Regions from separate parts of the Homo sapiens genome. Here regions 2, 3 and 4 are each linked to region 1. The links come from fine-mapping of genetic effects on gene expression. A gene starts in region 1. Each other region holds a variant in brackets. All regions are shown on one strand. Distances are from middle to middle.

Region 1 (5,684 bases):
GTAGGGCAGCTGAAAGGAAAAGGACAGGACAAATGAACAACCTGCCTCTCTCTTGATTCCCTACCTCTCTCTCCAGGGGAAAAGAACACTTGCAGGGCAGTGAACAAGAGTGAGAAGATGCTGTGTTAGGAGAAAAAAGAAAATAAGTAGAAGGTAGCAACTGGGTCCACAAGATTCTAGACAGGGGTTCTTAAATTGGTGTGTGTATGTGTGAGTGTATGTGCATGCCATGGACCTTTTCTCAGAATAAAGTTGTTAAATGCATGAAGCAAAATAGATAATTTACACAATCAAAAAATATTTTTAAAAATTCAAATAAGAGTAACATGTGCCTATTAGTGCATTAAATAGCAAGCAGATGTAATGACTAACATAATCTCAAAGTAAATAACATTATATGTATATATTTACTTACATGTATATAAATATCACTTAAAATATCTGCAACGCATGTTATAGAATATGAAACTACCTGATTTCAGGCTGGGCACAGTGGCTCATGCCTGTAATCCCAACACTTTGGAAGGCCGAGGTGGGAGGACTGTTTGAGCCCAGAAGTTCAGGATCAGCCTGGGTAACATGGCAAAACCCCGTCTCTTACAAAAATACAAAAATTAGCTGGGCATAGTGGTGTGTGCCTGTAGTCCCAGCTCCTTGGGAGGCTGAGGTGGGAGGACTGCTTGAGCCTGGGAGGTTGAGGCTGCAGTGAGCTGTGATTGCGCCACTGCACTCCAGCCTGAGCGACAGAGTGAGACACTGTCTCAAAACAAAAGAACAAGAAACACACAAAAAAGAAAATACCTGATTTCTACTAGTGACAAAGTGACAGACATGGCTAATAACCAATGTCACTTATTGTCTCTCTTCACAATAAAAGGAAATAACTTTTGCTAGTGGTTAATGGGAATGAAAATACATATCCATCCAGTTCAAGGACCCCTGAATTCTATTTATTCTATCCGGGTTAAGATCCCCTATTTTGCATCCTTCTGTACCAGGCAGGAGAGAGGCAAGGATGGATATACTTGAAGGCTTTCCCTTCTGCCCGCCACCTCTACTAAAGCCACTTACATTAGGAAAGTCCAGGTCTAGCTTGAATTTCACATCCAGCCATTGGCTTCGATCATAGTCAGGAGCTGTAAGAGACGGAATTAAGTGGGACCCAACCTCCTTAATACCCCACCTGACAAGAGCAAAAGATCTAAAGAAATGACTTGGTCCCAATACCTCAAATTCCCAGGCCCCAAAAGCATAACCATTGAGCCTCTGAGCCCTATTTGGTTAAGCATTAAGACGGGTTTGGGCTATGTTAAAAAGAGAACCCCCAGTTCCAGATAAAGGATGTGTCTCTATTCACCCAGATTGGGGCAAACGTCCCACCCGGCCTTGGCGCGACGCCACCACCCTCTGGGCGTAAGAAGACCAGGGCAGGTGGAGGGCCAGCTTGGCTGCACGGGCACGCGGAGCGGCATTACCTTCCCCGCACGTGTACCGTTTCTCCTCATAAGAGGTATCCGTGAACTCCAGGAGCAGGCGGATGGCGTGCGCCAGCTGGGGAAGACAGCGGTTCAGCGACTGCGCAGCTCCCACCCATTCCCAACCCCCGCCCGCTAACGTTCCCCGGCCCGGGGCTGCCGAGTCCCTGCGTCCTGCCGGGGCGGTGGTTAAGCGGCCCCTAGGCCCGGCTCCGGCGTGGTCTCCTCCGCCCCTCCCCACAGGGCCCGCGATCCCAGAGGCTGGGCAGGGGTCGACATCCGTGGCTCGGCAGCTCGAAAAGGCTCCCGCGTAGAGCTGCTCCTGCTGGAGATCGCGGACCCAGAGACCCGCCCTCTCCGCGTCAGTCTCTTTGACCGAGCGGCTCTACCGTTGAGACGGCACTCACCCCACGAATATCCCAGTACCCGAGAACCATAGACGACTCGCACGACATGGTGACGGGCTTCCGAGCCTTCGAGGACTAGGGAAACTGTGAGCGGGAGGGGCTTTATACCCGACATAAGGGGGCGGGGCCCACGCGCGGGCGCCCTGACTCCGCCTCCGCCCCGTTCTCCGTCCCTTGCCTCCGCGGCTCCACAGGGCCGTGCGCAGGCGCGACTAATGCCGGCGTTGGGGTTCAGGGCCTGGCGACCCCGAGGCGGGACCCGGGCAGGAGTGCTGCAGGAGAGCAAAGGACCCGAGGTTGAGGCTCCTCCCTTCCCCGCGGGTGGGAGCCAGACTTCATTCATTAATGGTGCCAGTGAAGACGCGAAAAGCACCACTAGCCAGGCAGTGGGGACCCTAGTTACCCAGGGAGAGCGAGATTCGCGCCGTTTTTACCGAGCCAGCCGGGGCTGGATGAAGGATAGGAAGACTGGGGCAAGGCCGGAGAGTCAGACCAGCCTCTGACCACACAGAGCAGAAGATTCCCCACAGACCAAGCTCCCCTCTCTGTCAGTCAAGGACCTCTGCAACCTGACCCCAACGTGCTTTTCCAGTCCTGTCTCTCCCTCAGCCCGTCACAACTTCATAAGCCAGCCCAACCCAACAATACTTGCTGTTCCTTCTACACACACTTGCATTTCCCACCTTGGAGTGTTTGCTCTGTGATCCTCCTACCTGCATCCTAATTTCCACAGCCTATCCTTCCTCAGCAGCCTTGCTGAAATGTCTGCCTATTCCTTGAAGCCTTCTCAGAACCAACCTCTATCCTGGCCAGAAGAGGTCTCTTATCTTGAATGTTTCCTACCTTTGTTTTATGGGCTTAAGTAATTTATGGATTCCTTATTATAATTTCCTCCTCCAATCCCTCCCACTTCCTAATGCTCACGCATTTAGGGAAATTAATCTTGCCTCTTTGTGTAGGATGGACTGGAGGAGGAAAGGTACTACCATTTTTCATTCACTCATTCATCTGTCCAACAATGTTTAACATGCCTGTTATGGACAGGCACTGTTTTAGGTGCTGGGGATACAGAACTGAACTCAACAGACAAAATCCCTGCCCTCAGGAAGTTTACATTCTAATGGGGAAGAAATAAACTAATATATAGTAAATAGCTAGTAAGTCAGGTGGTGATACACATCCTATGGAGAGAAATAAAATCGAGAAGAGAGATAGGGGGTCTCAGGGTGGGAACTGGGGGAGTCCCAGTAGGAAGGGGATTTATGTTTTTAAAGGTTATGTTCATAGAAGGCCTCATGGAGAAGTTAATCTTTAAACAAAGACCTGAAGGAGGTGAGAGATCAAGCCACTCTGCTGTGGGGGCCACCATGGGCTGATATAAATATAAAACAGAATAATTGCTGTTCCTTTTACAAGCATGTTTGCTCTGCTCCTGCCTGCACCCTAATGTCCATGGCCTAGCCTTCCTCAAGTAGCCGTGCTCAAATGCTCACTTCTTCCTTGAAGCCTTCTCAGAATCACCCTCTATCCTGGCCAGAAGAGTTCTCTCCCTCTCTTATCTCGAATCACTTCCTACCTGCAGGAGGCAGAGAGAACTCCAGGAAAAGGGAAACAGCAAGTACAGGAGTGATCACTCTGTGTTTGAAACCAGAGACTAGATGAGATCACCATGGGAGCACGAGTAGCAGAGATGAGGTCTAAGGGTTTGAGGTGCTCTGGCATATCAACATGTAAAGGTTAGGGAAAAATGAGAGCAAACCAGCAAAGGAGTCTGAAAAGGAGTGGCCAGGGAGGTAGGAGGAAAACAAAAGGTCCCAGAAGCCATGTGAAGATGTTTAAAGGGAGAAGTGATCAACTATGTCAAGTGTGGCTGATCAAGTAAGATGAAGATGGAGAATCAATGGTTGAATTTAGGAAAGTAGGGGTTTTGACCTTGACAGAGCAAGAGACCTGCCCGAGGCCCCTATAGTCATGGGAAGAACTAAGCTTCTGAATTTCGGCAGGGCCCATGCAAATGAAAAGGGGCACAGATTTGCAACAGGGTCAACTCGGGAGACATAGGATTCTAGTTGAATGTGGAGGAGTGACAGAGGAAGGAGTCCGGAGCTGCTCTGAGGGTTCTGGCCAGGCCTCTGCAGCACAGCTCTCAGGGCAGTCTGAGAGCCTAGATCCCCTAGCTCAGGTGTGGGAAATCACATTTGCCCATCAGTTCAACTGAAGCAAGGTTGGGACTTTTTAAAAGGGCATTTTGCTAAACAGAAGAAAGGAAGAGTACAAACCACATGGACAGGTGAAATTTATAATGCCTGTGTCTCTCCTCCCAAGAAAGCAAAAGGCCAGTCACAAATTCACCTGAGGTATAAGATTAACATTTATTGAGCACCTATCATATGCCAGGCAATATCTAAGTGTTTACGTATGTTAGCTAATTTATTCCAATTTAAGCTTCACAACAACTTTAGGAAGTAGGTGTTATGCCCATTTTCTTTTCTTTTTCTTTTTTTTTTTTTGCAGTTTTTGCATTACTTTCTTTTTTTTAAATTTTATTATTATTACACTTTAAGTTTCAGGGTATATGTGCACAATGTGCAGGTTTGTTACATATGTATACATGTGCCATGTTGGTGTGCTGCACCCATTAACTCCTCATTTAACACTAGGTATATCTCCTAATGCTATCCCTCCCCCCTCCCCCCACCCCACAACAGTCCCTGGAGTGTGATGTTCCCCTTCCTGTGTCCATGTGTTCTCATTGTTCAGTTCCCACCTATGAGTGAGAACATGCGGTGTTTGGTTTTTTGTCCTTGCGATAGTTTGCTGAGAATGATGGTTTCCAGTTTCATCCATGTCCCTACAAAGGACATGAACTCATCATTTTTTATGGCTGGATAGTATTCCATGGTGTATATGTGCCATGTTTTCTTAATCCAGTCTATCGTTGTTGGACATTTGGGTTGGTTCCAAGTCTTTGCTATTGTGAATAGTGCCGCAATAAACATACGTGTGCATGTGTCTTTATAGCAGCATGATTTATAATCCTTTGGGTATATACCCAGTAATGGGATGGCTGGGTCAAATGGTATTTCTAGTTCTAGATCCCTGAGGAATCGCCACACTGACTTCCACAATGTTGAACTAGTTTACAGTCCCACCAAAAGTGTAAAAGTGTTCCTATTTCTCCACATCCTCTCCAGCACCTCGTTTCCTGACTTTTTAATGATTGCCATTCTAACTGGTGTGAGATGGTAACTCATTGTGGTTTTGATTTGCATTTCTCTGATGGCCAGTGATGGTGAGCATTTTTTCATGTGTTTTTTGGCTGCATAAATGTCTTCTTTTGAGAAGTGTCTGTTCATATCCTTTGCCCACTTTTTGATGGGGTTGTTTGTTTTTTTCTTGTAAATTTGTTTGAGTTCATTGTAGATTCTGGATATTAGCCCTTTGTCAGATGAGTAGGTTGTGAAAATTTTCTCCCATTTTGTAGGTTGCGTGTTCACTCTGATGGTAGTTTCTTTTGCTGTGGAGAAGCTCTTTAGTTTAATTAGATCCCATTTGTCAATTTTGGCTTTTGTTGCCATTGCTTTTGGTGTTTTAGACATGAAGTCTTTGCCCATGCCTATGTCCAGAATGGTATTGCCTAGGTTTTCTTCTAGGGTTTTTATGGTTTTAGGTCTAACATGTAAGTCTTTAATCCATCTTGAATTAATTTTTGTATAAGGTGTAAGGAAGGGATCCAGTTTCAGCTTTCTACATATGGCTAGCCAGTTTTCCCAGTACCATTTATTAAATAGGGAATCCTTTC
Region 2 (5,684 bases), 67 kb before region 1:
GGTCCAGAGCCTACCAGGTGCTCAGGTGCTCCTGGGGCTGACCCAGAGGTTGTTGGGAGGTCAGTGGGGACAGATTTAGGGACAGTGTCACATTCCGCTCTGCCATCCCATCACCTCAGAAAGACTCCAGCTACCCAGTTGGAGTCTAATAAATGCTGATGTATCCAGCTGAAGCCTGGACAGTGACCCAGTTCCAGCTGTGGGGAAGATGACTGCTTGCCCGCGGCCAGCTGGGGCCATGCACAAAACTGGGAGGCCGCATCTGTGCAGGGAGCTTGTGTCTGAGGGTGTTGACAGCTGTTTTCTGCCTCAGGAGAAACTGAAACCAGAATACCTGCAGGCACTCCCTGAAATGCTGAAGCTCTACTCACAGTTTCTGGGGAAGCAGCCATGGTTTCTTGGGGACAAGGTAATGGGGGCGTGTGATGGGGACACCACAGATTTGTCATACTTCCTATATTATGGAGGTTTCAGCCCACATATCCTTGGCCTTATCCAGATCACCTTTGTGGATTTCATCGCTTATGATGTCCTTGAGAGAAACCAAGTATTTGAGCCCAGCTGCCTGGATGCCTTCCCAAACCTGAAGGACTTCATCTCCCGATTTGAGGTGATGCCCCCAGCCTCCTTTCTCTTTATGTCTCTTATTCCTTTCCCTCCTTTGTGATGCTTTCCCAGTCCTGGAGCTACACAAAGAATAACTCACATTTTTGGCCATGTGCGGTGGCTCACGCCTGTAATCTCAGCGCTTTGGAGGCTGAGGGAGGCAGATCACCTGTGGTTAGGAGTTTGATACCTGCCTGCCCAACATGGCAAAACCCCATCTTTACTAAAAAAAAATACAAAAATTAGCTGGGCGTGGTGGCGAGCACCTGTAATCCCAGCTACTTGGGAGGCTGAGGCAGGAGAATCACTTGAACCTGGGAGGTGGAAGTTGCAGTGAGCCAAGATCGTGCCACTGCATTCCAGCCTGTATGACAGAGTGTGACTCCATCTCAAGAAAAAAAAAAAAAAAAAAAAAAGGAGCCGGGCATGGTGGCTCACACTTGTAATCCCAGCATTTTGGGAGGCCGAGTTGGGTGGATCACCTGAGGTCGGGAGTTCGAGACCAGCCTGACCAACATGGTGAGACCCCTGTCTCTACTAAAAATACAAAATTAGCTGGGCGTGGTGGCACATGCCTATAATCCCAGCTACTAGGGAGGCTGAGGCAGGAGAATCTCTTGAACCTGGGAGGCGGAGGTTGCGGTGAGCCAAGATCGTGCCATTGCACCCCAGCCTGGGCAACAAGAGTGAAACTCCATCTCAAACAAAAAAAAGAAGAAAAGAATAACTTGCATTTATTGAGTGCTGGCTTCATGCCACGAACTGTACCCAGCACATTATACCTATTGTGTTGAATTTGAAATTTACAACATTCCTACAGGGTGGTAGAATTATCTCCCCCATTTTAGAGACAAAGAAACTGAGAATGAGAGGGTCAGTCCTTTGCTCAGGGTCCCAGAGCCAGTGGAGGCTGTGCTGGGCTCCCTGCGAGCCTCTGGATCTATGGTTGGCAGTCAGGGCTCTCCGTTTTGTGACAAAAGAAAAGCCTCAGGCCTTGTCCAGCCTGGGTTTCATAGCCCAGGACACTTTGGAAGAGGCAGAGCACTTCAGGACCACGGATGCAGCTGGCAATAGTAGGACTGACACACAGTAGCATTGATGTTCAATACTGAACCCACAGGCAGTATTCACAGCTACACCCAGAAACTTTGTATGATTGAACCCCCATGTGGGGAATCCTGAGAGCCAGGGCTGTGGCTGGAGCTGGATTAAGGTACATATGTGGGTGCCCCTGTTGAAGGAGCTTATGCTGAAATGCCCTGTGCTGGAGCACTTTCCTTCTCTACCTCTTTTTTTTTTTTTTTTTTTGAGACGGAGTCTTGCTCTGTCACCCAGGCCGGAGTGCAGTGGAGCAATCTCGGCTCACTGCAACCTCTGTCTCCTGGGTTCAAGTGATTCTCCTGCCTCAGCCTCTTGAGTAGCTGGGATTACAGGTGTGTACCACCACGTCCAGCTAATTTTTGTATTTTTAGTAGAGATGGGGTTTTGCTATGTTGGCCAGGCTGGTCTCAAACTCCTGACCTCAGGTGATCCACCCACCTCAGCCTCCCTAAGTGCTGGGATTACAAGCGTGAGCCACCGCGCCTGGCCTCTTCCTCTCTTTTTTTCCCTCCAATGTTCCAGGTGTTCCCCCTGTGAGATGAGTAGCACGCTGATTTTACTCCTGTTCACTGACCTTCTCCTCTGCATGAGGCAGGGTGTGAGGCACAGTGGGAGATGCATAGATGACAGCCCCATCCTGGAAATGAGTGCAGTGAGAGGCCTGCAGGCAGAGCAGCCTGTGAAGTGTGTGCTGAACTTGTTTGAGAGCAGCAAATCCTACATTACTACAGATTTGGGGATTTGAGGCATTTGTCCAACAGGCTTCTGAGCCTTGAATCTGTTTCCCTTTTCCACTCCCCATCAAGAGATCTGCTTGCTCAGCTAGTTCCCATCAGCTCTGGTTCTGCGGTTCTGGTCCAGGCTGAGTGGCCTTGGAGTTAGGTAAGAGGTGGTGGGAAGGGAGGGATGGAGGAGAGCTGAGAGCTATGGCCCGTTATGTGCCAGGGTCAAGCCTGTCACCCAGGCTGGAGTGCATTGGTGCGATCTTGGCTCACTGCAACCTCCGCTTCCTGGGTTCAAGCAATTCTCTGCCTCAGCCTACCAAGTAGCTGGGATTACAGGTGCCCGCCACCATGACCAGCTAATTTTTGTATTTTTAGTAGAGATGGGTTTTCACCATGTTGGCCAGGCTG[G/A]TCTCCAACTCTTGACCTCAGGTGATCCACTCGTCTCGGCCTTCCAAAGTGCTGGGATTACAGGTGTGAGCCGGATGTTTTTGAATACCTTATCTGGGCATTCAATCCTGGTAAGATTGTGCACAGCACATCTGAGTGTCATGTAGCCTGATCTGCAGCAGGGCTGGAGATGCCATGGGTTAGGGCACAGTGAGATTTTGCTAAGATACCAGATGGAGAACCTTGGACTTTCTGCTTTAAGGGGAATGATTAGAGCCTAGTCTCGCCTTTGATTTTCTTGTGCACTGCCACTCCCCATTCCACTTTCATCCAGGTTTTACTGAGACATTGGGTGAGTGTGTTCAGAGCCCCTTTGTTCTGCTGGAGGTCCCTTCTGTGTCTCTATACCCAGACAAGCCAAGAGCCTCCCTGTGGAAAAGGAGACTGTTTGTGCAGTCAAGGAGTGACAGGGCCTGGTGTGAGGGGTGGTGGGGCAGAAGAAGAAGAGAATTTGGCAGAAAGAGGCCAGAACTGGAGAGAGACAGAACCAGGCTACATTGAAGTTCTATTCCCCTTACTAGGTATTTAAATGTAAGGAAGTTGCTGAACTTCTGTTTCCCACATGACAAATGGTGATAATAGATTCAGCCTTGCAGAGTAGTCGAGTGGGTTTTCTAAGCTTACGTTGTAATTTCTCTTGGGTACAGAGCACCCAGCACCGTGTAGAATCTTCATAAGTGTTAGCTGTTACTGTGGTACAACATTACTTAAAGGAAGTTGGAAGAGTTAACTCCGCAGATCTGGGGACCCTAAGAAGCTGTGTGATGCCTCAGCACTTGAGCCCACATGGAAAGGCTGTGGCCAGGGCCCTGACCTGCTGTGTCTGCAGTGGGGTTGTGCCAGCCCTCATGGGCAGCTGACCTTGAGTTCTGGCCTTATTTTCCCCCCTCTCAGGGCTTGGAGAAGATCTCTGCCTACATGAAGTCCAGCCGCTTCCTCCCAAGACCTGTGTTCACAAAGATGGCTGTCTGGGGCAACAAGTAGGGCCTTGAAGGCCAGGAGGTGGGAGTGAGGAGCCCATACTCAGCCTGCTGCCCAGGCTGTGCAGCGCAGCTGGACTCTGCATCCCAGCACCTGCCTCCTCGTTCCTTTCTCCTGTTTATTCCCATCTTTACTCCCAAGACTTCATTGTCCCTCTTCACTCCCCCTAAACCCCTGTCCCATGCAGGCCCTTTGAAGCCTCAGCTACCCACTATCCTTCGTGAACATCCCCTCCCATCATTACCCTTCCCTGCACTAAAGCCAGCCTGACCTTCCTTCCTGTTAGTGGTTGTGTCTGCTTTAAAGGGCCTGCCTGGCCCCTCGCCTGTGGAGCTCAGCCCCGAGCTGTCCCCGTGTTGCATGAAGGAGCAGCATTGACTGGTTTACAGGCCCTGCTCCTGCAGCATGGTCCCTGCCTTAGGCCTACCTGATGGAAGTAAAGCCTCAACCACATTTGCTGTGTGTCTTGTCTTATTTGCTCCTGGCCATCTACCCAGACTGTCTGTCTGTCTGTCACTGCCTCTTCCAAGGGACTGGCTGGTGATCCTGGCAGTGGCTGGGTTCTAAAGGATTCTGCTGGGCATAGTAAGGCGCTTGAGAATTCTTGCTCCCATTCCTGAGAGACTCAGAGCAGGAAGCCCCATGAGGCACTGTGGAAAGGATGTCTCTTTCTTGGCCTGGATCTCCCATTCATTCATCCAGCCGTATTGAGTACTTTCCATAATTGCACAGAGCTTGTGTCTCATTGAATAGGACCCCAAGGGGGTGGAATCTCCATCAGAGAGAACCAGGGTCCCTTTTACCTTCTCCACTATATGACTGCATCACTTCTGTTAGGTCTCCAGGACCCAATCTCTATTGTTTTTCTCAGATGGCTTCCAGGTACCCTCTCCAGGCTTGCTGCACAGCTGTCATCAGGACGTTCTCTCTGGGTTTACTTCCTCTCTTTCCTGGGTACCTGTGAGAGAAATGTCTTTAGTCCTTGCATAACTGAAAGTGCCTTTACATGCTTACTGAATACTCTGGCTGAGGATTTAGTCTGTTCTCACGCTGCTAATAGAGACATACCCGAGACTGGGTAATTGATAAAGGAAAGAGGTTTAAAGGACTCACAGTTCCACAGGGCCTGGGAGGCCTCATAACCATGGCAGAAGGCGAATGAGGACCAAAGTAATGTCTTACATGGCAGCAGGCAAGAGGGCGTGTGCAGGGGAACTCCCACTTATAAAACCATCAGATCTTGTGAGACTTATTCACTACCGTGAGAACAGTATGGGGGAAACTGCCCCCATGATGGAGTTTTCTGCACCCGGCCCCCACCCTTGACACCTGGGGATTATTACAATTCAAGGTAAGATGTGGGTGGGGACACAGCCAAACCATATCAGCTGGGGATAGAATTCTATGATGAAAACCTTCAGACTTCTAATAGATTTATTCACTTTTTTCTAGAATTGAGCATTTCTGGTGAGTAGGTCGATGCCAGTCTGACTGCATCCTTTGCTTTTTAAAAATTATTATTATTGTTGTTATTTTGAGAGGAAGTATTACTCTGTCGCCTAGGCTGGAGTGTGGTGGTGTGATCTCGTCTCACTGCAACCTCCCCTTCCTGGGTTCAAACAATTCTCCTTCCTCAGCCTCCCGAGTAGCTGGGACTACAGGCGTGCACACTGTGCCCAGCCGATTTTTGTATTTTTGTTTTAGAGACGGGTTTTCACCATGTTGGCCATGCTGGTCTCGAACTCCTGACCTCGTGATCCACCCACCTCGGCTTCCCAAAGTTCTGGAATTACATGCGTGAGCCACTCTGCCTGGCTATATCTT
Region 3 (5,567 bases), 29 kb before region 1:
AATTCCTCTCTTTGTACTCTTTCTCTTTATTTCTCAGCCAGCTGACACTTATGGAAAATAGAACCTATGTTGAAATACTGGGGGCAGTTTCCCCGATAGCCTTGCTGAGGAAATTAAATTTATGTTCAAGTGCTATTTCTTTATGGAACCAAGGAACAAGTATTTCAAACAATACTAATGTAACAGTACTGGTTCTATGTGTTTCAAAATTATTATTCTCATGAGTGTTAGCTTTCTTAAAAAATCGTTTTTATCAATTGGATCTAGACATCTTATCTTTCACAGCTCAAGACCCATTAACTCAAAATCATAAACTCTTAATGCATAATGAGAAATATAATGATTCCTAGGGCCAGGCACTTGTGTCTGTGCTGGTGCTATTGCCTCAATGCAGGAAAATCTATGTGAGAATTCACTGTGAGGCCAAAACTGCTTCCTAAACATGGATACCTGCCAGGTATCTGAGCTGGGAGTACTGCCCAGGTCTGGATGGGTGGGGAGTGTTTGCAACAAGGACTGTGCCTTGCCAGCCTCAGTGACACAGTGTCCAAGTGCCCCAACTTAGCAGCCACCTGCTGACCACCTGATTTCTGTGGCCTAATAGGGATGTGATGAAGTCTACCTGTTTACTCAACCCCAAACCACACATTATCCAGGTGGTTTGAAACTTTTTTGATATACTGGGTTCATCCTCTGGAGTCCTAACAATGTTTTAGCTAATTTACAAAAAAACAAAAACAAAAACAAAAAACAAAAAACTACTTTTTTTGCAGCACAACAGCCTGGTTTACATTGCAAAATGATTTCTCATTAAAGGTCTATCATCTATTTCCATATATCCATTATTATTTGTAATATCCTTTAAAAAAAGCAGTCAACCCCAGGCTAATCCATTGCACAACTCTTTTGAAAGTCTTCCTTCTACCTTGAAAGAAGAAAGTTGGCAGGTTGGACATTGTTCTTGCGGAGGTTGTACCATGGGTCACATATCACGGTGTGACTTCAAAGGCCACTGGAGCCACCGTCTCATACTGAAGAACACACATGGGTCAGGAGCCAGGTCCAGGTCCGGCATGGTGGATCTGGAGAGGGGAGAGTCCCTGCCTGTGATCCTGTGGGGAGCCCTCAGGCTCCTCTCTGGCCACCATCCTCTGACCTCCCTCCTCAGCAGGACAGGGTTCTGGCTTCTCTGAGGGACAGGTTCTGTGGCAGACCAGGTGTCACTAACACAGGCCTCCATAACAACTGTTTCAGTACTGACTGAGTGATGAAATTAAATATTAAAAGCTGAAAAAAGCCAGTACCTTTATACAGAGGCTGGATGTAACAAAAGCCCACCAAGAGTTTTGCTTAGGCCTTTCCTGGGCCTTAAAGCATGACAAAACAACGAAGGAATTCTTAACAGGACCTATTTAGAATTAAACAAGTTTTATTGTGAGTCTGAAGAAACTCCCCAGGCCTCCACAAACAAGTTTACTGGGCATCTGAAGGAACTCCCCAAACCTCCATGATTTAGCAGGAGACAAGATAAGGGCAATCATCCCCCGCACCTGGACCCATTTAGATTAAGTAAATAGACTGAGGCTCCAGAGTAAGGTCCTCAGGACCCAGACCTCAGTTACAGATTAAAGAAGTTAATCACTTATGTCTTTAGATGAATGCACACTTACTTGTAGACATATACCTTAGAAGGTATATATGCTCTGGAAAACTTTAATTTTGAGTTGGTCTGGTAGTAATTTCCAGGCCTTCTCCCTGTAACTGGTTGCAGAAATAAAACCTCTCTTCCTCCCCATTTGATCTGCATCTCGTTATTGGGCCTAGAGAAATAGCAGCCGGACCCTCAGTTTGGTCCGGGAAGTTCTTCCATCCTCCCTCGCCTGCTCTCTGTGGCCACTGCACTCACTGTTGCTGTTGCTGTTCCGGTCTCTGTGAGGTTCACCTAGTGGACTGGCTGGACATTTCTAGGGGGCACCTCAGATACCTCACCAACTTGCTGGATCTGATCCTTGGATTTCGATTCATAAATTGTGCCAAAATACGAAGTGGCTAATTTACATAGTACTTAGCCAGATGACCGAAGGACTCAGTATCCAAAGGCCCCTAACAGAAAACACAGACCACATTTCCTTTACTCTGGCCCTTTTCCTGGGGGTCCTTCCTATACCACTGACACTGTTCCTGTGTAGGCGGGGCTAGAGGGGAGACTAAGCCCTCGGAGTAGCTTTCGGATCAGAGGAAGTCCTGCTCTTACAGTGACAGGGGCTGAATTAAATTCCCAGGTTGGGACCACCACTTTTTAGTCTGACCCCTGCAGCCGGAGTCTCCCAGAGCCCTTGGGAACTCGGCAGCGGAGAGAAGGCTGAGGGATTCTGCGGGCAGGGAGGAGAAGGGAGAAGAGCTTTGCTCCGTTAGGATCTGGCTGGTGTCTCAAGCGCACAGCCAAGTCGCTGTGGACCTAGCAAGGGCTGGATGGACTCATGGAGCCTCAGGGCGGGTTGGGGAAGCTGGCGAGGCCGAGCCCCGCTTTGGGCTTCTGGGCGCCCTGACCTCGCTCCCGGAACCCTGGGGACTGGGAGGCGGGAGGGGGCTTATTGATTCCAGCCCCGGGCGCTCGCTCGGGGGCCTACAGAATGGCGTGTTTCGGGGTTGTGGCGGGCCGAGGGGCGGGGTCGCAGCAAGGCCCCGCCTGTCCCCTCCTGGGCCTCTCAAAGTCTGAGCCCCGCTCCGCTGATGCCTGTCTGCAGAATCCGCACCAACCAGCACCATGCCCATGACTCTGGGGTACTGGGACATCCGTGGGGTAAGCGAGGGTCCTCTGGTGGGTGGGACAGGGGGCGGAGGCGGGGATGTGTGGAGTAGCTGCAGGACTGGCTCTAGGGACCGTTCCTCTTCAGGGCTGCCCGCCTCAGAAGGGCCTGTGCATGACGCTGTGTGTGTGTTTGGGGGTGGGGGCGGGTAGAGGAGGCGACGGGTACGTGCAGTATAGACTAGGGGCTGGCCTGGTGCAGAGAAAGTCACCAAGTCAGGGACCCTCCATCTCTGACCCGAGCCGCGGGCCATCTCTCCCAGCTGGCCCACGCCATCCGCTTGCTCCTGGAATACACAGACTCAAGCTATGTGGAAAAGAAGTACACGCTGGGGGACGGTAATGGCACCCTCGTGTCCGGGCCCTGCCCACTCACGCTGAGTTGGCACCAAGCAACCCATGGTGGCCACCTGTGGCTGCCTCTGCAGGCCTCCCCTGCTGGAGCTGCAGGCTGTCCCTTCCCTGAGCTCCCGTGAGTGAGCCCTCTGGCCTTGCAAGGCAGAATGCTGGGGCGGGATGCTGGACACCCTGTCTAATTGGGTTGGGTGTCCCTCAGAGCTTCCCTAAACCCTGGAAGCCTTAGCCGTTGTGGGGTCCAGAGCCCTCAGTGGGATTCTTT[C/G]TCCCTGAACCCTGGGATGTGGGACTGAGTGGTCAGATTCTAGATCCACCTGTCTCAGGGATCTTGCCACTGGCTCCTTGGGAGGGTCCCCGGGAAGGAGGGCTGGGCTCTGGGGAGGTTTGTTTTCACTTCTTCCCCACCACAGCTCCTGACTATGACAGAAGCCAGTGGCTGAATGAAAAATTCAAGCTGGGCCTGGACTTTCCCAATGTAGGTGCAGGGGAAGGGGCGGTTTTGGGGGAAAGTGCGACGTGTCTCTGACTGCATCTCCTCTCCCCACCTTAGAGGTGTTAAGATCAGGAGTCTTCTGCCCAATTCCTCTCACTCTTGGCTGTCTACACAGCCCTTGCATGATGTTCTGTGTCCCAGCTCATTTATTAGTGTGACAGTATTTCTATCTCAGGCCTGCCATGAGCAGGCCCTGGTCTCCTCTCTGCCCTTGCATATGGGAAGGGGATGCTGGGGAGCCTGGTGGCCCAACTGAGCTTCCCCGGTTTCCCATCTATCCAGCTGCCCTACTTGATTGATGGGGCTCACAAGATCACCCAGAGCAATGCCATCCTGCGCTACATTGCCCGCAAGCACAACCTGTGTGAGTGTGGGTGGCTGCAATGTGCGGGGGGAAGGTGACCTCCTCCTTGGCTGGGCTGTGATGCTGAGATTGAGTCTGTGTTTTGTGGGTGGCAGGTGGGGAGACAGAAGAGGAGAAGATTCGTGTGGACATTTTGGAGAACCAGGTTATGGATAACCACATGGAGCTGGTCAGACTGTGCTATGACCCAGATTTTGTGAGTCCCACACCCCACTCCCAGTCACCCATTTCCCTGCCTTTTGGCCCAGACCAGGGAGGGACTTCCAAAGTCAGGTCTGTAGCAGACTCCGGCCAGCTGACTGGAGACGTCTATAACCTGGTTCTCCAAAATGTCCACACGAATCTTCTCCTCTTCTGAAGATTCTTGTGGACATTTTGGAGAACCAGACCACGGACAACTGGATGCAACTGGTCATGATCTGCTACCACCCAGAGTTTGTGAGTCTCCCCAGTGAGCTGCACCTGGCAGAGTTTGGATTTGGGGCCAGGACTCTTGCATTCCTGCACGCACTGGTCTTTTCTTAAGTCCTTGGTACCACTCATCCTCCAAGTGCTTTCCCATACTATCAGCAGTTATTCTCACGACTCCAATGTCATGTCAACAAAAGCAGAGGCAATTCCCACCAATCTTAGGACACGATCCAGGCATCCCACGGTGGAAATTCAATTCCTAGATGGTAAAATTTGTGTTCAGAATCTCCTTCATCTCCTCTGGCCTCTGGCCTCTGTCATGGGTCATTTCTGTCAGTTGATTTATATCACCTACCTGCTCCTAGAATATACAGACTCAAGTACAAGACCAAGGAATGTAATGGCACCCTCAAATTGCATCTTCTCCTCAAAGTTTTCCAAGTGCTGTCATTGACATGCACCGGGATCTGCGCATTTTCATAACAGACAGCTCAGAGGCAGCCAGAGGGCCTTTATTCCTCTCCCTCCTTCCTTTCAACTTGAACTTCTCATCTCCCTGGAAACTAGTCAATGTTCATTGTTTTCTTCTGTCACCCCATTAGAAGGAACTTTCTACTTCTTTCCCTGAGCTCCTTTAGTTCTTTGCATCCTTGATTCTGCCCCTGTCTGGATCCAGAGGCTGCCAGGTGCTCGGGCGCTCATGCGGCTGACCCAGAGGCTATTGGGAGGCCAGTGAGGACAGATTCAGGAAGAGCATCTCATTCTGATCACTTCAGATAGGGTCTGGCACCCAGTCAGAGTCTAATAAATGCTGATGTATCCAATTGAAGCCTGGGCACTGCCCCGGTTTTAGTTGTGGGGAAGATGGCTGCTTGCCTGTGGCCAGCCTGGGCCATCTACAGCCCTGGGGAGGCCACGTCTGTGCAGGGAGCTTTTGTCTGAGGGTGGTGACAGCTGTTTTCTGCCTCAGGAGAAACTGAAGCCAAAATACTTGGAGGAACTCCCTGAAAAGCTAAAGCTCTACTCAGAGTTTCTGGGGAAGCGGCCATGGTTTGCAGGAGACAAGGTAAAGGAGGAGTGATATGGGGAATGAGATCTGTTTTACTTCATGTGTTTCGGGGTTTTCAGCCCACACA
Region 4 (5,569 bases), 21 kb after region 1:
CACTGGAAGAGCAGAGTGCTAGTGCCTGGCAGGCCCGGCTCCTGCACGGTGATGGACAGGATGGAGTTGTAGGAACATGTGTTGAGCGCCACATTCATGGCCTGGATGCTGTCTAGGCGGTAAGAGTCCAGCTCCTCCTGGGCCAGGTGGAGAGGTCAACTGTGAGGCCACCAGAGCTAGGTGTGGCTTCTGGGAGCTCCTGACCAGCTCATCCTAGCCCTTTGGTGGCCTAGGGCTGAGGTGTCATCTACCTGACTCTTGTGCCTCTGTCCCCAGCCTCTGTCCCCTGTCTCTTCCTAGGCTTGGGTGTGTGTTGTATGTGGGGAGAGTGGCTGCCCTTTGGGGCATGGAGGGTGGAGTTCAAGAGCTAGTGCTTGCTTCCCCACAGCCCAGGCTGGCTATCACTGGGTTTGCTGGGAAGGCTGACCTTGGTCTCAATGTCCAGCAGCTGCAGCCAGCCGTCCCTGACCTGCAGGATCAAGTCTTGGCTCCACACCCGGCCCTGTGCATCCATCTCGAACAGCTTCTGCAAGGCATCCTCGGGCCCCTGGACTCTCTGACTCCCCTGCTTGCATGTCATCAAGTGCTGCAGGGAGAGGGGGAGTCCTAGGACTGGGAGAAAGCTCAGAGAGGTGGACCACAGGCGTGCTGGGTAGAGAAAAGCAGAAGAGGAAGAAGACGTGTCCTCGGCCCCCTTGAGGTAGGAGGTTCCAGGCTTCAGATAAAGCAACTTTCCAGGGCCAATGTGAGGGACGGTGTCGAAGCACTGGGGCCAGGGATAGGGCCTCCAAGTCTGAGTCTGAGGGGCTGCAGGAGGGGTTTGAGGACTCTGGAGGAAGGACAGGCATGGCCTTTACTAGTCCAGGCCAGGTGAGGCAGCTGGGTGGTGGAGGATGTGGGCTCCAGCCACCCAACAAATAACTCCTCTGGAGGTGATACAGGACCCTCAGATTCTGTCCCTGGCTTCCTTTGTTCCTTTTGGGAACTCAGTCCCAGCCCAGTCTTCCTCCTCACTCACCCAGCATTCCTGTCTCCTTCTCCCTGGTTCATGCCTGGAGATATCCATCGTGATCTCAGTCTCCGCTCAAGTCCTTGCCTACTGCTAGGCTGACCATCCAGGAGTTTTTTGCTGTTATCCACTCTCCTTTAGGAGCCCCCTCCCTTCTCCCAGCCAAACATTACCTTCACAAGGCCCCTTCCACCCAGGCTTCTTGTGGTAGGGAGATGCAGCCTGCCTCCTGCCCTTTGACCCCACCCCCCTGCCCAGGGCCCAGCTCTTCTCCCTGTGTTCGCACTGCCAGCATATTCAGGGGACTCTGGCATCATGAGCAAACTCCATCCTCCTCTTGCTCTGCCTGCTGGGCCTAAAAGAAGCCTCTTCCCAGCCTCCACCCTACAGAGAAGCTGAGTCCTCCTGGCCTCTCCTCGGCTGGCTAGGGGAGCTCTGCCTCTGCTGCCCTGTGGGACCTGCTGCCCTGTGGGACCTGCAGACCATCGCCCCAGCTCCCTCCCTGCTTGTTCTCCATTGGAGCCACTAACAAGTGGTGGCCAGGACAGGATGGCTTCTACCCCAGAGCTCCAGCCTGACCCTCTGCCTGCTCTCCCCACCACGCCCTTGTAGCCTGTGCTTCGCCTTCACCTTGGTGTCGACAGCCCTTCAGGCACCTAAATCTTGCAGTGCCTGCATCATCCTCCCTGGTAGAGCCAGAGACTCCATTCTAGCCTTGGAGCAGCCTCGGAGCTGCTCACAGTCACCCTGGAGGCTTGGGCCCAGGTGCCTCCCCTCTCCAACAGTGGCCCTCTCAATCCCCCACAGGGCCCAAAGATCCCAAAGATCCCACACACTCCTGCCTCCAGCCATGCAAGGTCTTGGGCAATGGAGCAGTGCCCTGGGGACTCGGGCAGCAGGGGGTTGGGAGACAGGGGAGGGTAGGTGGGTGGGTGGTTGTAGGTGCTTCTTATCCCATCCTGCTGCTACTTCTTCCTGTCTGGGGACAGGACACTCACCCGCTCAACCTCCAGCCAGGCCTGCTCTGTTCAATCTGACCACCCCTCC[C/T]CGTCCCTGACACTGAGCAGATGCTCTGGCAGGCTTGTTGGATCTGAGTCCATGCGACATGGTTGGGACAGGCTGTTGGCTTCTGGGGCAGGGACTTGTGTGAAGTGTCCATGTTCTGGCAGGGCGGTGGGCACATGGGAACACTTGGGTTTAGTTGGACACTGCCCGGGGGCTGCAGAGGTACTCACCTCCACCCTGTGCTGCAGGAGGGTGGGCTCTGAGGTGAGGTTCTGGGAGTACTCCTTCCGGTGCACTACAAGGGCACAGAGCAAGGGGCGGGAGGTGGGCAGAAGAACGAGGTGAGACTCAGGCAACTGCTGGGGGCAGTTGGTGTGAGGAAGGGGGAGTGGAGGATGGGACATTCTGGGGGCTCAGTGGGAGGGCACGGGAGAGGGGCCTGCCAGGAGCTTACAGTAAATGGCTCTGCTGCTGGGCCTTGACATGTTGACGCTGCTGAGGACGGCTCCCTAGAACCCAAAGTGAACCAGAGGCAGCCATCAGAGCTGGGGAAAGGTGTACCAGGCACAGCAGGGCAGGACAGTTGCTATTGCTCTGACTGGGGGCCTCTGGGACCAGACCCAAAGCCCCTGGCTCCAGGGGCCCTTTCCGGAGCCATCTGCAGCCAGCGTCCTCCACTGAGGAGCCCTCCATCCTGGCTGGGCCTGGAGGCCCCGGGCTGAGGGAAGGGAGGGTCAGGGAGGCCACAGCATGGCTGGGCCTCAGGGAAGGCTCCAGGCCTCCCATGGTTTGGCTGATAAAGCTCATGCCAAGGAGCCCAGGAAACCTGGATGGACAGGGACCTGCGTTCAGATCCTATCTTGGGCCTGGGTATGAAAGATGCTGGATGAGCAGAGGGTTCTGTAGCCGACCCCGCCAGAGGAGGCCCTCTTGTTCGACCCTGTTTCAGTTCTGCAAACTGAGAGGACGCTGATGCTGGCTCTTCAGCTGTAGACCCTCTGGGAAGACTGCATGCATGTGTGTGTGTACTTATGGTGGCACTGCAGGACTCGCCAGTGAGCTGACCTCCCCCAAGTGTCTCCCTAGGCCTCCTGGCTCTTTGCTTTTTGTACTCTGTATCCTCTGCCCAGGTCCCCTCCTGACCCCAACCCTTTAAATTCTAGCTCAAAGATCACCCTCTTGGTGAAGCCCTCCTGGACCATCCAACCCCACCCTGCCCAGGGTACCCTCCTAATGCTGCACTGGACCTTGTACATTTATCTCCAGCAACAATAGTCACAATAGCCACCACGGTGCTGTGAGCCTGGTGCTGAGCCCCTTACCAACATCCTATCAGTTTCTCCTCACTGCCGTCCACTTGTACTTACTTGGCGCCACGTGCCTAGCACTGTTCTAACGGCGTTACCTTCAGTCACTCTAATCCTCAAAACAACCTCACAAGGCAGGTACTGGTATTGTCCCCATTTACCATATGAGGACTCTGAGGCTCAAAGACGGTAACAGGCCTGAGGTCACAAATGAACGTTTAATAGAGAGCAACCCAGATCTGTCCGATTGCAAGCTTCGTGTTTTAATGGTTTATAAACATGCCTCTGCCGCTGGGCTGTGCGCAGTCACAGAGGGAGTCTAGAGAACATACATGTTGAAATGGAGTGGAATTAAATGTGGTGTGTGTGTCCCGGGTGGGGGTGGTGTTAGTCTGTGCGGGTCAAGGGTATGTGTTATCCAAATGAGGTTTGTGGGTATCCACATGTCTACATGGTACACCTCAGTTGTGCAGAAATACTGGACTACCCCGGGTAACATGTGAGAGAGCAACCCATACCCTTGTTTATTAGGACTGTTGTGAAAATGACGTAGGATCTGATAAGATGACTCAGTGTGGAAGGAAATAAACTGCCAGTGAACAATTAAGGGAATGTGGAAGGGACGGCTGGATCTCTGGTTTCCTTGTTTGGGAGGACCCCTTTTCTCTCCAGGGGTAAGGCGGGGCTAGAAGCCTGTTCCCCTTCCCCAGCCTCCCCCAACCCCCATTGTAACACTTCCTGCTTCTCCATGCTCTCCATGCAGAAGAGGAAGTGAGGTCTGCCCCTGGTCAGCCCCACTCCCCACTCCCTCAACACCAGGGTGGGCCCTGTGGGGCCCTCTAGGTAGGTAGGTCAAGGTGGGGAAACAGCTGCAGCCAAAGATTCCCTACCCCAGGGAGGGAAGAGGGAGCTGGCTTGGCCTGCCTTGCCCCTTAGGGGTAGGGGAGCTGTGACAGCCCATTTCCCCCCTTTAAGCCCTAGATGTAGGGGTTTGGAGCAGGGAAGGCCATCACCTCATAGACCCTGGGGCAAGCATCCCAGAGGCCCTTCCGGAGCCTGGACCTCGCTCTGCTTTCCAGCCCACCAGCCAGCTGCTGAGTCCCAAGCCCCTCCTTGGGCTTGATCCCCTGGGCTGCAGCTGGGAACAGGCTGGAGACCTGGCCTGGGAAGCCACTGAGTTGCCCCCACCTGCCCTGAGATCCCCTGTGACTGGGCTGGGCCCCGATCTTCCCTGGGGGCCAGGCCCTTACCTGGGTGCCAGTGAAGGCCGGGTGCCTGGTCCCCCCAGGAGGCTGGTCTTGGAGCAGGTGGTCCGGTGCTGGTGGTGGAAGGACAGCAGCTTCTCTGCTAGTGGCCACAGGCAGAGCCTGCCTTTGATGAGGTTACAGAGGCAGCCACGCCTGTGCTCTTTGGACTCTGGTGGGTGGGGAGGCTTCCTGGTCACTAACCGCTCAACATCAACCTGGACCTGCGGCAGTGTCTGTGCTGACTGGCGTCCCCAGCTTAGCTAGAGGCCCCTGCTTCCCTGTTTCCCCCACTGCTAGCCTTGGGGTGTGGCCCCCTCTTCCCTCTGCCTTTTAGGTGCCTACTCTGGGGAACAGGTCAGCATCAGGCACGGGGCTGGGACCAGAAGAAGAGAGCACACATGGCCCAGAGTCTGGGTTCTGTGGTGAGGGCACAGGTCGGCTGGAGGTGGACTCCAGGCTTGGGGGAAGCTGTGGGCTGGCGTGTGTGCCATGCCTGTGCGTGGGTGGCACCCATAGGTGTGTGATCCTGTGTACCTGGGTGGTGCCTGTGAGCAGGACATGGATCTTGTCACAGAAGATGGGGACTGAGGCCCCTGGGGCATTACATGGAGCGCTGAGATTCCCTCTGGCAGGGCCCTCATTCTGTCCCTACTGTTGTCCCTTCCAGCAGGAGCCCCCTTACCAGCCCTTTCTCGCTCTTCCACTCTCTTTCCTTCTGTACCCCATCTTGTGCCCAGACCCCTGGTGGACGCCTGGCCAGCTTCAGCAAAGATGGAAAACGGAGGCCTGCATCTATCTCTAGTCATAAACCTACCCACTTCCTGCACTCCATGGTATCGAAAAATCTTTCTTGGCACTCAGAGTGGGCCAGGCTCCCCTGCCCTCTGGGAACTCACAGTCTAACCAACAAGGCCAGGTATAAACAGAAACCAGGGAGCAGGGCAGGAGGGGAGGCGGGGGCGGGGGAGTGCCAGTGAGCCTCGGACCCTCGTGGGCAGAAT

What was found. PIP is the estimated chance that this variant, and not a neighbour inherited with it, causes the effect.
Region 2: its variant is fine-mapped to the expression of GSTM3 in whole blood (INTERVAL, PIP 0.91).
Region 3: its variant is fine-mapped to the expression of GSTM3 in left ventricle (GTEx, PIP 0.97). The same link has a PIP of 0.9 or more in gastroesophageal junction.
Region 4: its variant is fine-mapped to the expression of GSTM3 in thyroid (GTEx, PIP 0.92).

Annotation. Positions count from the first base shown.
Region 1 is chr1:109,738,358-109,744,041 of GRCh38, forward strand. It overlaps GSTM3 (glutathione S-transferase mu 3), which reads right to left and starts at 2,681. Exons shown (of 9, transcript NM_000849.5): 1 at 2,596-2,681; 2 at 1,883-2,154; 3 at 1,476-1,551; 4 at 1,072-1,136; 5 at 1-9. The coding sequence starts at 1,930. RefSeq lists a silencer at 1,891-2,120.
Region 2 is chr1:109,670,974-109,676,657 of GRCh38, forward strand. GSTM2 (glutathione S-transferase mu 2) reads left to right here. Exons shown (of 8, transcript NM_000848.4): 6 at 314-409; 7 at 500-610; 8 at 3,774-4,313. The coding sequence ends at 3,863. Among named protein-coding and RNA genes, the nearest start is that of GSTM2, 5.8 kb to the left of the region's middle. The variant G/A (reference allele first, on the strand shown) is at 2,841.
Region 3 is chr1:109,709,546-109,715,112 of GRCh38, forward strand. GSTM5 (glutathione S-transferase mu 5) reads left to right here and starts at 2,706. Exons shown (of 8, transcript NM_000851.4): 1 at 2,706-2,803; 2 at 3,073-3,148; 3 at 3,574-3,638; 4 at 3,939-4,020; 5 at 4,116-4,216; 6 at 5,402-5,497. The coding sequence starts at 2,768. The variant C/G (reference allele first, on the strand shown) is at 3,429.
Region 4 is chr1:109,759,251-109,764,819 of GRCh38, forward strand. EPS8L3 (EPS8 signaling adaptor L3) reads right to left here and starts at 4,673. Exons shown (of 19, transcript NM_133181.4): 1 at 4,572-4,673; 2 at 2,469-2,523; 3 at 2,245-2,309; 4 at 428-586; 5 at 1-137. The coding sequence starts at 2,499. LOC124904258 (a long non-coding RNA gene) reads left to right here and starts at 615. Exons shown (of 2, transcript XR_007066303.1): 1 at 615-700. RefSeq lists an enhancer at 1,316-2,045. The variant C/T (reference allele first, on the strand shown) is at 2,057.